Homo sapiens: one gene and its partner. The protein of the gene in region 1 purifies or fractionates together with the protein of each later gene. This does not show direct contact. Each region holds a gene or a part of one and is shown on either strand. Other genes may lie near its edges.

The links. Proteins that work in one complex are often made in the same cells at the same time.
Region 2: the proteins of DTX1 (region 1) and NLRP3 purify together in Homo sapiens (affinity purification with western blotting; one study listed by BioGRID). This does not show direct contact.

Annotation. Positions count from the first base shown.
Region 1 is NC_000012.12:113,090,467-113,095,853, forward strand, and holds part of DTX1 (E3 ubiquitin-protein ligase DTX1), read left to right. Parts: intron 1-2,695; coding exon 2,696-2,757; intron 2,758-3,072; coding exon 3,073-3,234; intron 3,235-3,571; coding exon 3,572-3,633; intron 3,634-4,322; coding exon 4,323-4,481; intron 4,482-4,575; coding exon 4,576-4,737; intron 4,738-4,858; coding exon 4,859-4,948; intron 4,949-5,387. UniProt on the Homo sapiens protein: Functions as a ubiquitin ligase protein in vivo, mediating ubiquitination and promoting degradation of MEKK1, suggesting that it may regulate the Notch pathway via some ubiquitin ligase activity.
Region 2 is NC_000001.11:247,422,673-247,427,115, forward strand, and holds part of NLRP3 (NACHT, LRR and PYD domains-containing protein 3), read left to right. Parts: intron 1-557; coding exon 558-677; intron 678-1,174; coding exon 1,175-2,927; intron 2,928-4,443. UniProt on the Homo sapiens protein: Sensor component of the NLRP3 inflammasome, which mediates inflammasome activation in response to defects in membrane integrity, leading to secretion of inflammatory cytokines IL1B and IL18 and pyroptosis.

The DNA.
Region 1 (5,387 bases):
GATGAGCTTTACATGTTTTAGCACATTTAACTTTCACAGGACTCTATCCCCATTACAGGTGGGGAAACTGAGGCACAGTGCTTTCTTCCCACCTCCACTGACCAGGTCCTGGGGGACCCAGGGTACCCGCCATCCCATCCTGCCTCCCTCGGGAGCTGTGTTCATTGACTTCCATCACACCGGCGCCTCCTCAAGGGGCTCAATCCAGATGTCTGCTCCAGACCTCTCCACAGCCCTCAGAGGGGTCTGGGATGGGAGTCCTGGCCACGTGATACTATCCTGTATAGCCGAGCAGCCACCAAGTGGGTGTGTGTGCGCTGCACCTGTGTGCATGTGTGATTGTGCCTCTGCATGTGTGCAGGTGTGGGCCTCCCAGGCTGAGTGTCTGTGTGTCAGTGTCAGGAGGTGTGGGTCAGAGCATGTGCGCATGTGTCCTCGTGTGCAGTGAGTCAGCGTGTCCTCCTGCGCCCCCATGCATGATGTGAATCAGTACGCACGAGTACTTCCCCACAGGCGGTGCGGAATCGTGTGTCCGCGTGTGGACGGCAGGCCGTTCTGCAGGCTGCAGCGCGCCGGGGGCTTGTAGGGCTGAGCGCATGCTCCTCTGGGTTTGCTGCCCACCTTACCCAGCTCTGTGCAGCTGGGGAGAGGGGCGGCAGTAGCAGGTGCGGTACTGGTCTACATGAGCCACCGACTCTTGTCCAATGGAGTATCCTCCCAGGGGAGAGCTGTGTGTGCTTCTGTGTGTATGTGTGTGTCCCCGTGTGTGCACAAGTCTCTGTATGTAGGTGTGGGGAGGCATTCCCTGGAATATGTGAGTGTGTGTGTATCTTAATCCATGTATGTTTGTGGGGGGCGTGCCCTGAAGTGTGCCTGTGTGTATCCATGTATATGTTCATGGTGTGCATTCCCTAGTGTGTGCGGTATGTTCCCCAAGTAGACGGATGGGGAGGGAGGCTCCCTGGTATCTGTGTGTCTGTGTGTGCATGTATCTGTGATGTACTCCCTGGGTTGTGTGTGTTTGTGTGTCTGTGTACTTAAACATGTGTGTGTAATGTGTCCCGGGGAGTATGATAAGTCTGTGTGGTCTTCTCCATGCATGTGTGTATATTTGGATCTGTGGATCTGTGTGGATGGTGTGTGCCCTGGGTGTGTATGTCTGTGTGTCTGCACCCACTGCAGCAGTACCCAAGCCTGCCAAGGGCACCATTTGCTTGAAGATGCTTTCTGGTGCCAACTGTGCCTGCCAAGGACAGGTGACCAGACAGCATTAGACAGGCTGTGACCTGAACAGGCACGGCCAGAGCCAAGGGGGCTGCTGCAGCTCCTTCTCCAGCTGTCACTGCTCCCAGCCCTTCCTGCCCCCTCTCCTGGCACATCCCCCAAGGCCTTCAGGCTGACCCCTGGATTTCAGAACACCCCTCTTCATCAGAACGTATCCAGCCTGGGTTCCATGCCCATCAACAGCAAGACACCAGTTCCCCTGCATAAACAGGTGCTGAAGTCAGGAGGACTCAGGCAGACACACTGTACACATCACCGCAAGCTCTCCTTCAGTCCTCCCAACGACTATAAGTGAGGTGTTAATATGCCTGTTTTACAGATAAGGTAACTGAGGATCAAGAAGTTAAGTGACTTGTTCAAGGTTGTCACTGCAGCAGTTTTGTGGTTTCCTCTCTAAGATGGAGAGAAGTTACACCAGGACTTAGTGCCTGGGAAGCAAAGAGGTGAAATTACTCGGCCAGGATTGCACAGCTGACAGTGATGATACCGATGGCTGTGCTTTTAGTAGCTGTTAGGTACCAGGAACTGTGCTTGGCCCTTGACACATATAATTTCACGGAATCCTCACAGCAGATTAAAAAAAAAAAAAGGTACCATATTGTCCCCATTTTACAGACCACCCCTTACAAGAGATGAGATGATGTGCTGTGTGTCGCCCAGCTCATTAGTGGTTGAACTGAGATATGAAAGCAGCTCTGGCTGACTCCAAAAGCCAAAGCTCTTTTGAGGGCCAGAGGAAGAGGAGAGTCAGGATACCTTTTCCTAGGGGCTCTTCATTTGAAGAGAGGATAGTACCTTGTCACAGAAACTGACATCAGTAAATATTCCAGAAGAGAAAAAAAATTCATCACCAAATGCTTTTGAAAACCTGGACTTATCATTGTTAATGATATGTTCTTACGCAGGGCTTGTCAGAGCCTTTAATATGCTCAGATATGTTGTGAATTTCAGAGAGGGAGACAGTGACGTGTTCCTAACTTACTTGATTCCTGAATCCTTCTTTCCTGGAACGTTTTATGGAAATTAATAATGCTACATCTAACAAGCTTTGAGAGATGTTAAAATAGCTACACCACTAGTAGTTGGGTTTCAGGCACAGCGGCCAACGAAAGGAGCCCTCAGAGCCAAAGCGCCCTCTCGAGGGAGGAGCCGGCTGTAGGGTAAGGAGGTGTCTGCACTAAAGTCTAAGGGTGCATCCCATTGGAACCTGGGCGGAGGTCCTGGCCACCCCCGCCCCATAATAGGATGTCAGAGTAGAAAGAGAGTTTCCTGGAGGTAACTGCAGTTGGCAGAGAGGTACAAAGAGGCCAGGGTGTGTGGCCCAGGAGCCAGAGACAGAAGGCAAGCCAGGTCCCCTGACGTCGCTTCGGGGGCTGGAGTCCAGCTGCGGCCTCTTCTCTTCTCCCCGCAGGGTCCCCGCACTCCCGGTGAAGAACTTGAATGGTACTGGGCCGGTCCATCCGGCCCTGGCAGGTGAGGTCTGGCCCAGGGCGGGAAAGAAGGGCGGGGCCCACTAGGAGGCAGCTCCGCCTGTCACCCGGTGACCCCGCCCCCGAGATGGGCTGGTGAGCGTGGCCCGGAGGAAACGCCCCCTTCCACTGGGCCCAGGACACAGGGCGGGCGTGGCCCGCAGAAAGGCCCTTCAGGGGCCTTCAAGGGGCTGAGTGGGTGGGGCCCAAGAGCGCAACCCTCCCACCCACCCGAGGGCCCCGGGATTCCCAGGGCCAGTGGTCGGGGGTTTGGGCGGGGATGGCGCCCCGCCCTGTGACTGCGCCCCCTAACCCCCAGGGATGACCGGGATACTGCTGTGCGCGGCCGGGCTGCCCGTGTGCCTGACGCGGGCCCCCAAGCCCATCCTGCACCCGCCGCCCGTGAGCAAGAGCGACGTGAAGCCCGTGCCTGGCGTGCCCGGGGTGTGCCGCAAGACCAAGAAGAAGCACCTTAAAAAGAGTACGCCCTCCACGCCCTGCCTCACACGAGATGAACCCCACTAAGCCTTGACCACAACTCTGTGACCCCTGGTCTCCAACTTATTCTTAGCATTTACTACCTCACCTCCATTGCCTGATCTCAGCTCCCCTTGCCCTGGCCCCATCTTTCACCAGCTCCTGTTACAGCTAACCTCCAGCAACCCCTGACCTCTGACCCTGGCCAACCCTTGCCAGCCTGACCCCGGCCAACCCTTGCCAGCCTGACCCCTGCCCTCTGACCCCTGACCCAGTTCTGAGCCAAGCCTTCGGGGACAGACTCTGGGTACCCTCAAACCCACCCCGCTGTGTCCCTGCAGGTAAGAATCCCGAGGATGTGGTTCGAAGATACATGCAGAAGGTGAAAAACCCACCTGATGAGGTGAGGAGGGGATGGGGGGGCTGGGGGAGGGCCCTGGCATGGAGGGGGCAGGAACCCTCACCCCTCCTCCTGGGTTCTGGGTGATACAGAGCTCTTCTAGTTTGTTCCTTTCTTCACTTTATGAGGTTTTTTGATGAATAGAAATACTTACGTTTAATAGACTCACATTTATCCATCTTTTGATGATTGAGTTTTTGTGTCATTTTCACCCATATTTTCCACTAAATGTTTTTAAGTTTTGCTTTTGATAGTTAAGCCCTTAATTCACCTGGGGGGTGGTGAGGGGAGCCATCTTCCTCTGTGATATATCAGAATTCAATATATGGGAAGGGGCTGGGTGCAGTGGCTCATCCCTGTAGTTCCAGCTACGTAGGAGGCTGAGGCAGGAGGATCTCTTGAGCCCAGGAGTTTGACTCTGCAGTGAGCTATGATTGCACTGCTGCACTTCAGCCTGGGCAACAGAGCCTGTCTCTTAATAAAAATAAATAAATAAAATAAATAAAATAACGAAGAAGAAGAAAAGAAAATAAAACAATGTATGGGGCAGAGGGTGTGTCCTGTCTCCCTTTGCCAAATGGGTACCAGAGAGAGTGTGGTCTGCTGCCTATGGTGACCCACCAAGGGGCAGTGCTGACCCAGTAGGTGCCCTGCCCTCCCCAGTCCTCAGTCTCCCCTGCTGCCACCTGCAGGACTGCACCATCTGCATGGAGCGACTGGTCACAGCATCAGGCTACGAGGGCGTGCTTCGGCACAAGGGCGTGCGGCCTGAGCTCGTGGGCCGCCTGGGCCGCTGTGGCCACATGTACCACCTGCTGTGCCTCGTGGCCATGTACTCCAATGGCAACAAGGTGGGTTGGGCGGGACAATGGCTGAGGAGTGGGCAGGGAACGGAGTGGGGTTTGGGGGGGTGCTGGGAACTCACTGCCAGCCTCCCCTGCCCAGGATGGCAGCCTGCAGTGCCCCACCTGCAAGGCCATCTACGGGGAGAAGACGGGTACGCAGCCGCCTGGGAAGATGGAGTTCCACCTCATCCCCCACTCGCTGCCCGGCTTCCCTGATACCCAGACCATCCGCATCGTCTATGACATCCCCACAGGCATCCAGGTGGGCTCCCCTTCCGCCTCTCTGGCCCCCAGCCCCCACACCCCTCCAACTCCTCCAGATGCTTCTCCACCCTGCCACCACCTGTTCATGGTCTAAATCCCTGTACTGTCCCTCTCTGCAGGGCCCTGAGCACCCCAACCCCGGGAAGAAGTTCACCGCAAGAGGATTCCCTCGCCACTGCTATCTACCCAACAACGAGAAAGGCCGGAAGGTGGGTGCCCAGCCGTGAGGGCATGGGAGATAGGCACAGGCAGGGGCTCCAGCAACCACTGGCCTGGGCCTGTGGTCCCCATCATTCCCAATCCCTGCTCTCACATTCCTCCCAAAAGCAGCACCCGAACAGTAACGACCACAGCCACCTCCTTCACACATCTTATCTCGTTTCCTGAGCCACTGAGGTCAAGATCCTGACCCCATTTTATAGACAAAGACACAAGGCTTCAGAAAGGGCAAGTCACTTGACTGTGGTCACAGAGAAACTAAGTGGCGGAGCTGGGATTTGAGCCCAGGCAGTCCAAGCTGTCACCACCACCCTACAGGTTGTCTGATTTGACTTTCTGCTTTTCAAGAGCACCAAGAAATCCAGATTTTCATGGGAAATCTCTAGGCTTTTGAATGTTAGTAACTAATTTACAAGTGGCTCTTTAATA
Region 2 (4,443 bases), on another chromosome or scaffold:
TCCTGGGTGATTCTAAAGTCAGCCAGGATTCCCAACCACTAGATTAGGCACGAAATAGACTGGTCGTTCTCACTCTTGAAGAACCAGACATCTAGACTTGACAATAGAAGACGTGTGTAAAATGGATTGCAGGGAACTGCGGTCAGGGAAGGGTGACCTTTCTTAGCCCACAGCCGTGTTGGGGATATAGGAGAGCTTGGAGATGCCCTCACAATCAGGCTGCCAGGGGCAGGCAAAAGCAAACGAGGGTAAAAGAAACTTAGCCTGCTTCGCATGTTTGCTGATTGATTTCCAGGCCTGAGGAAGAGATTCTGAGACTGGGGACAGTGGGAACACATGCTTGGCAGGTGGACAGCAGAAGTTGTTTTGAAACTAGGAGTGCAGAAATGCTCCCAACCAGACTTTTGACTGGATACCTGTCCTCTGCAACTCAGAGCCATGTTTTGATTTGGGGGATGTTTGGGGTCTCCTCTCTCATGCCAAATATTAGGCCAGGTTTCAATTGCATCCTCTGTGATAATAGTTCTGGGTTTTGACACCTTTTTTTTCCCTTTTAGGTTCAGATAATGCACGTGTTTCGAATCCCACTGTGATATGCCAGGAAGACAGCATTGAAGAGGAGTGGATGGGTTTACTGGAGTACCTTTCGAGAATCTCTATTTGTAAAATGAAGAAAGGTAAGCGACTGGGGTGGTGCTTCTAGTTGAGTTTTAAGACCTGGTTCAGGAGGCTCTGGGAAGCTGAGCAGCTGGGTAACTTGGCCATACTATAGGTTCCTGCTCTTTGGAATGCAAAGGCCTGTCTCAGGAAATCCATTGTCAGTTGAAGAAACAAATTCATGTTTGTGTGGCTCTTGCAGTCCCAGAGCCAGCGGCGGTGATTAAGCGTTTCAAGTTTGATAAGGCATAGGATGCAGATTACTTAAAGGAATAAGATTGATTCAAATGATCTTTGGGCTGGTAGCTACACATAGAGATGGGCCTTCTGCTCAGCTGTGTATCTTAAAAACTTGACACCAGAGATTCTCGGCACCTTTCCTACCCAGTGGGGAGGAGCTGCACCTTCCATTTCTCCATTCCGGTTACCACTCGCTTCCGATGACAGGCCCCAGCTGAGAGCGCATCTCAGGTGGATGTGTGTATACTTTCCCCCTAACTTCCTGTCTTTGCCGTAGATTACCGTAAGAAGTACAGAAAGTACGTGAGAAGCAGATTCCAGTGCATTGAAGACAGGAATGCCCGTCTGGGTGAGAGTGTGAGCCTCAACAAACGCTACACACGACTGCGTCTCATCAAGGAGCACCGGAGCCAGCAGGAGAGGGAGCAGGAGCTTCTGGCCATCGGCAAGACCAAGACGTGTGAGAGCCCCGTGAGTCCCATTAAGATGGAGTTGCTGTTTGACCCCGATGATGAGCATTCTGAGCCTGTGCACACCGTGGTGTTCCAGGGGGCGGCAGGGATTGGGAAAACAATCCTGGCCAGGAAGATGATGTTGGACTGGGCGTCGGGGACACTCTACCAAGACAGGTTTGACTATCTGTTCTATATCCACTGTCGAGAGGTGAGCCTTGTGACACAGAGGAGCCTGGGGGACCTGATCATGAGCTGCTGCCCCGACCCAAACCCACCCATCCACAAGATCGTGAGAAAACCCTCCAGAATCCTCTTCCTCATGGACGGCTTCGATGAGCTGCAAGGTGCCTTTGACGAGCACATAGGACCGCTCTGCACTGACTGGCAGAAGGCCGAGCGGGGAGACATTCTCCTGAGCAGCCTCATCAGAAAGAAGCTGCTTCCCGAGGCCTCTCTGCTCATCACCACGAGACCTGTGGCCCTGGAGAAACTGCAGCACTTGCTGGACCATCCTCGGCATGTGGAGATCCTGGGTTTCTCCGAGGCCAAAAGGAAAGAGTACTTCTTCAAGTACTTCTCTGATGAGGCCCAAGCCAGGGCAGCCTTCAGTCTGATTCAGGAGAACGAGGTCCTCTTCACCATGTGCTTCATCCCCCTGGTCTGCTGGATCGTGTGCACTGGACTGAAACAGCAGATGGAGAGTGGCAAGAGCCTTGCCCAGACATCCAAGACCACCACCGCGGTGTACGTCTTCTTCCTTTCCAGTTTGCTGCAGCCCCGGGGAGGGAGCCAGGAGCACGGCCTCTGCGCCCACCTCTGGGGGCTCTGCTCTTTGGCTGCAGATGGAATCTGGAACCAGAAAATCCTGTTTGAGGAGTCCGACCTCAGGAATCATGGACTGCAGAAGGCGGATGTGTCTGCTTTCCTGAGGATGAACCTGTTCCAAAAGGAAGTGGACTGCGAGAAGTTCTACAGCTTCATCCACATGACTTTCCAGGAGTTCTTTGCCGCCATGTACTACCTGCTGGAAGAGGAAAAGGAAGGAAGGACGAACGTTCCAGGGAGTCGTTTGAAGCTTCCCAGCCGAGACGTGACAGTCCTTCTGGAAAACTATGGCAAATTCGAAAAGGGGTATTTGATTTTTGTTGTACGTTTCCTCTTTGGCCTGGTAAACCAGGAGAGGACCTCCTACTTGGAGAAGAAATTAAGTTGCAAGATCTCTCAGCAAATCAGGCTGGAGCTGCTGAAATGGATTGAAGTGAAAGCCAAAGCTAAAAAGCTGCAGATCCAGCCCAGCCAGCTGGAATTGTTCTACTGTTTGTACGAGATGCAGGAGGAGGACTTCGTGCAAAGGGCCATGGACTATTTCCCCAAGATTGAGATCAATCTCTCCACCAGAATGGACCACATGGTTTCTTCCTTTTGCATTGAGAACTGTCATCGGGTGGAGTCACTGTCCCTGGGGTTTCTCCATAACATGCCCAAGGAGGAAGAGGAGGAGGAAAAGGAAGGCCGACACCTTGATATGGTGCAGTGTGTCCTCCCAAGCTCCTCTCATGCTGCCTGTTCTCATGGGTAAGGAAACTCGGCTTCCAGGTGCTTCCTCCTGCTTCCTCGCCAGCTTCTTCTTGGCGCTTGCCTCCTCTCATCTCTTTTCAACTATCTTCCAAATACTGTTGCCACAGCTACATCATAATGCCACCACTGTCTGTTTGAGACTCCTTCATGAGCAAAGATTGATGTATGGTAGGTGGATAAATGGGATGAGGAAAAAAAAAATAAAACAAGGAACAAATGTTTGGGGAATGCCAGTTTAGCACAAGGTATTAAGTAGGATGTAGGATTGCCTACAAATATTTGTCAACTGAAATTTCTTGTAAGCTACTTGGAGCACTAGTGCCTAAGAGTCAGTCAATGTCTGTGGGGCAGAACAATGCCAGAGAGTCTGTGTCCCAGGAGCGAGGGGACAGAGGGCCTCAGAGCTGGAGGCTGGGGGGATGTTTCTTAGAAATGTGCAATCTAAGCCTCCTTTAAGGAATGGTGGGACCTGGGCGCATAGAGAAGAAATTAAAGGAATTCTGCACTGAAGACTGGTATGAGCCAAATCATGAATGCAGTCTGAGAAAAAGTGTGTGCAGGTGACAGTGGAGAGAGACACAGTTTCCTTGGAAAAAAACATGATGAAGGTAAATCAAGGGAAATAGAGCAGAAATGTGGAGACCCTCTTTCTAGGCCCCCATGTTGCTCTGCACTGGGCATTGCCAAAACCCCGTTTTCGGGTCTGTTCACACACTTGCTGGGTGGTTGGAAGCTAGTGGCCAAGTCTGTGCAATGAAGTGGTTGAGTCACCTGACTTCTGAGTCCCTTTTGGGTTTATCGTTCAGTGCCTCCTGCAGAAGGACCACCCACAGTGGTTGTAGGAAGGTGGCCACCCTGTGATGTGTGAGTTTAGCCTGGATAGAAGACACTTGACGTGGGGCAAAATTAAGGGAAACAGGAGGCTTGGCCCTTCCACAGGCAACAATGAGTTTCAGCTTTCTTGATCCGTTGACATTACCATGACCAGGACCACCTTCCTAGTCATGGTTTGGCCATGAAGGACTGACTGCCCACAGGGCCGCAGTGGTGGTGAAGACCCAGGTCCTGGTCACAGGGACTTGAGGTCTGGCTGTGGGACAGTCCGGAAACAAGTGCAGATGTCGGGGAGGGGGTCATGGGCTCTGACAAGGAAACTTGCAGAGTATCCAAAGCACAAGGGGACGAACCTGTTCACCAGCGGGGCACGGGTGGGTGTCCCCGCTCAGCCAGCTTCCGGAGGATGGGCAGTGAGAGAGTGAGAGAAGGAAAGGGGCAGCCAGGCTGGGGGCTTACGGTGTTGAGAGAGAGGGCAGGTGTGGGAAAGCAGGGTACGGTTTCTACGGCAGCAAACAGTTCCGAGTGACTGGAAAAAAGACAGTTGTCTTCATTCATCAGGTTGCCATAACAAAACACTGCAGGCTGGTTGGCTTATAAGCAAAAGGAAGGTTCACCTTACGGTTCTGGAGGCTGGGAAGTCCATGATCCAGGCTCTGGCAGATCTGGTGTTTGGTGA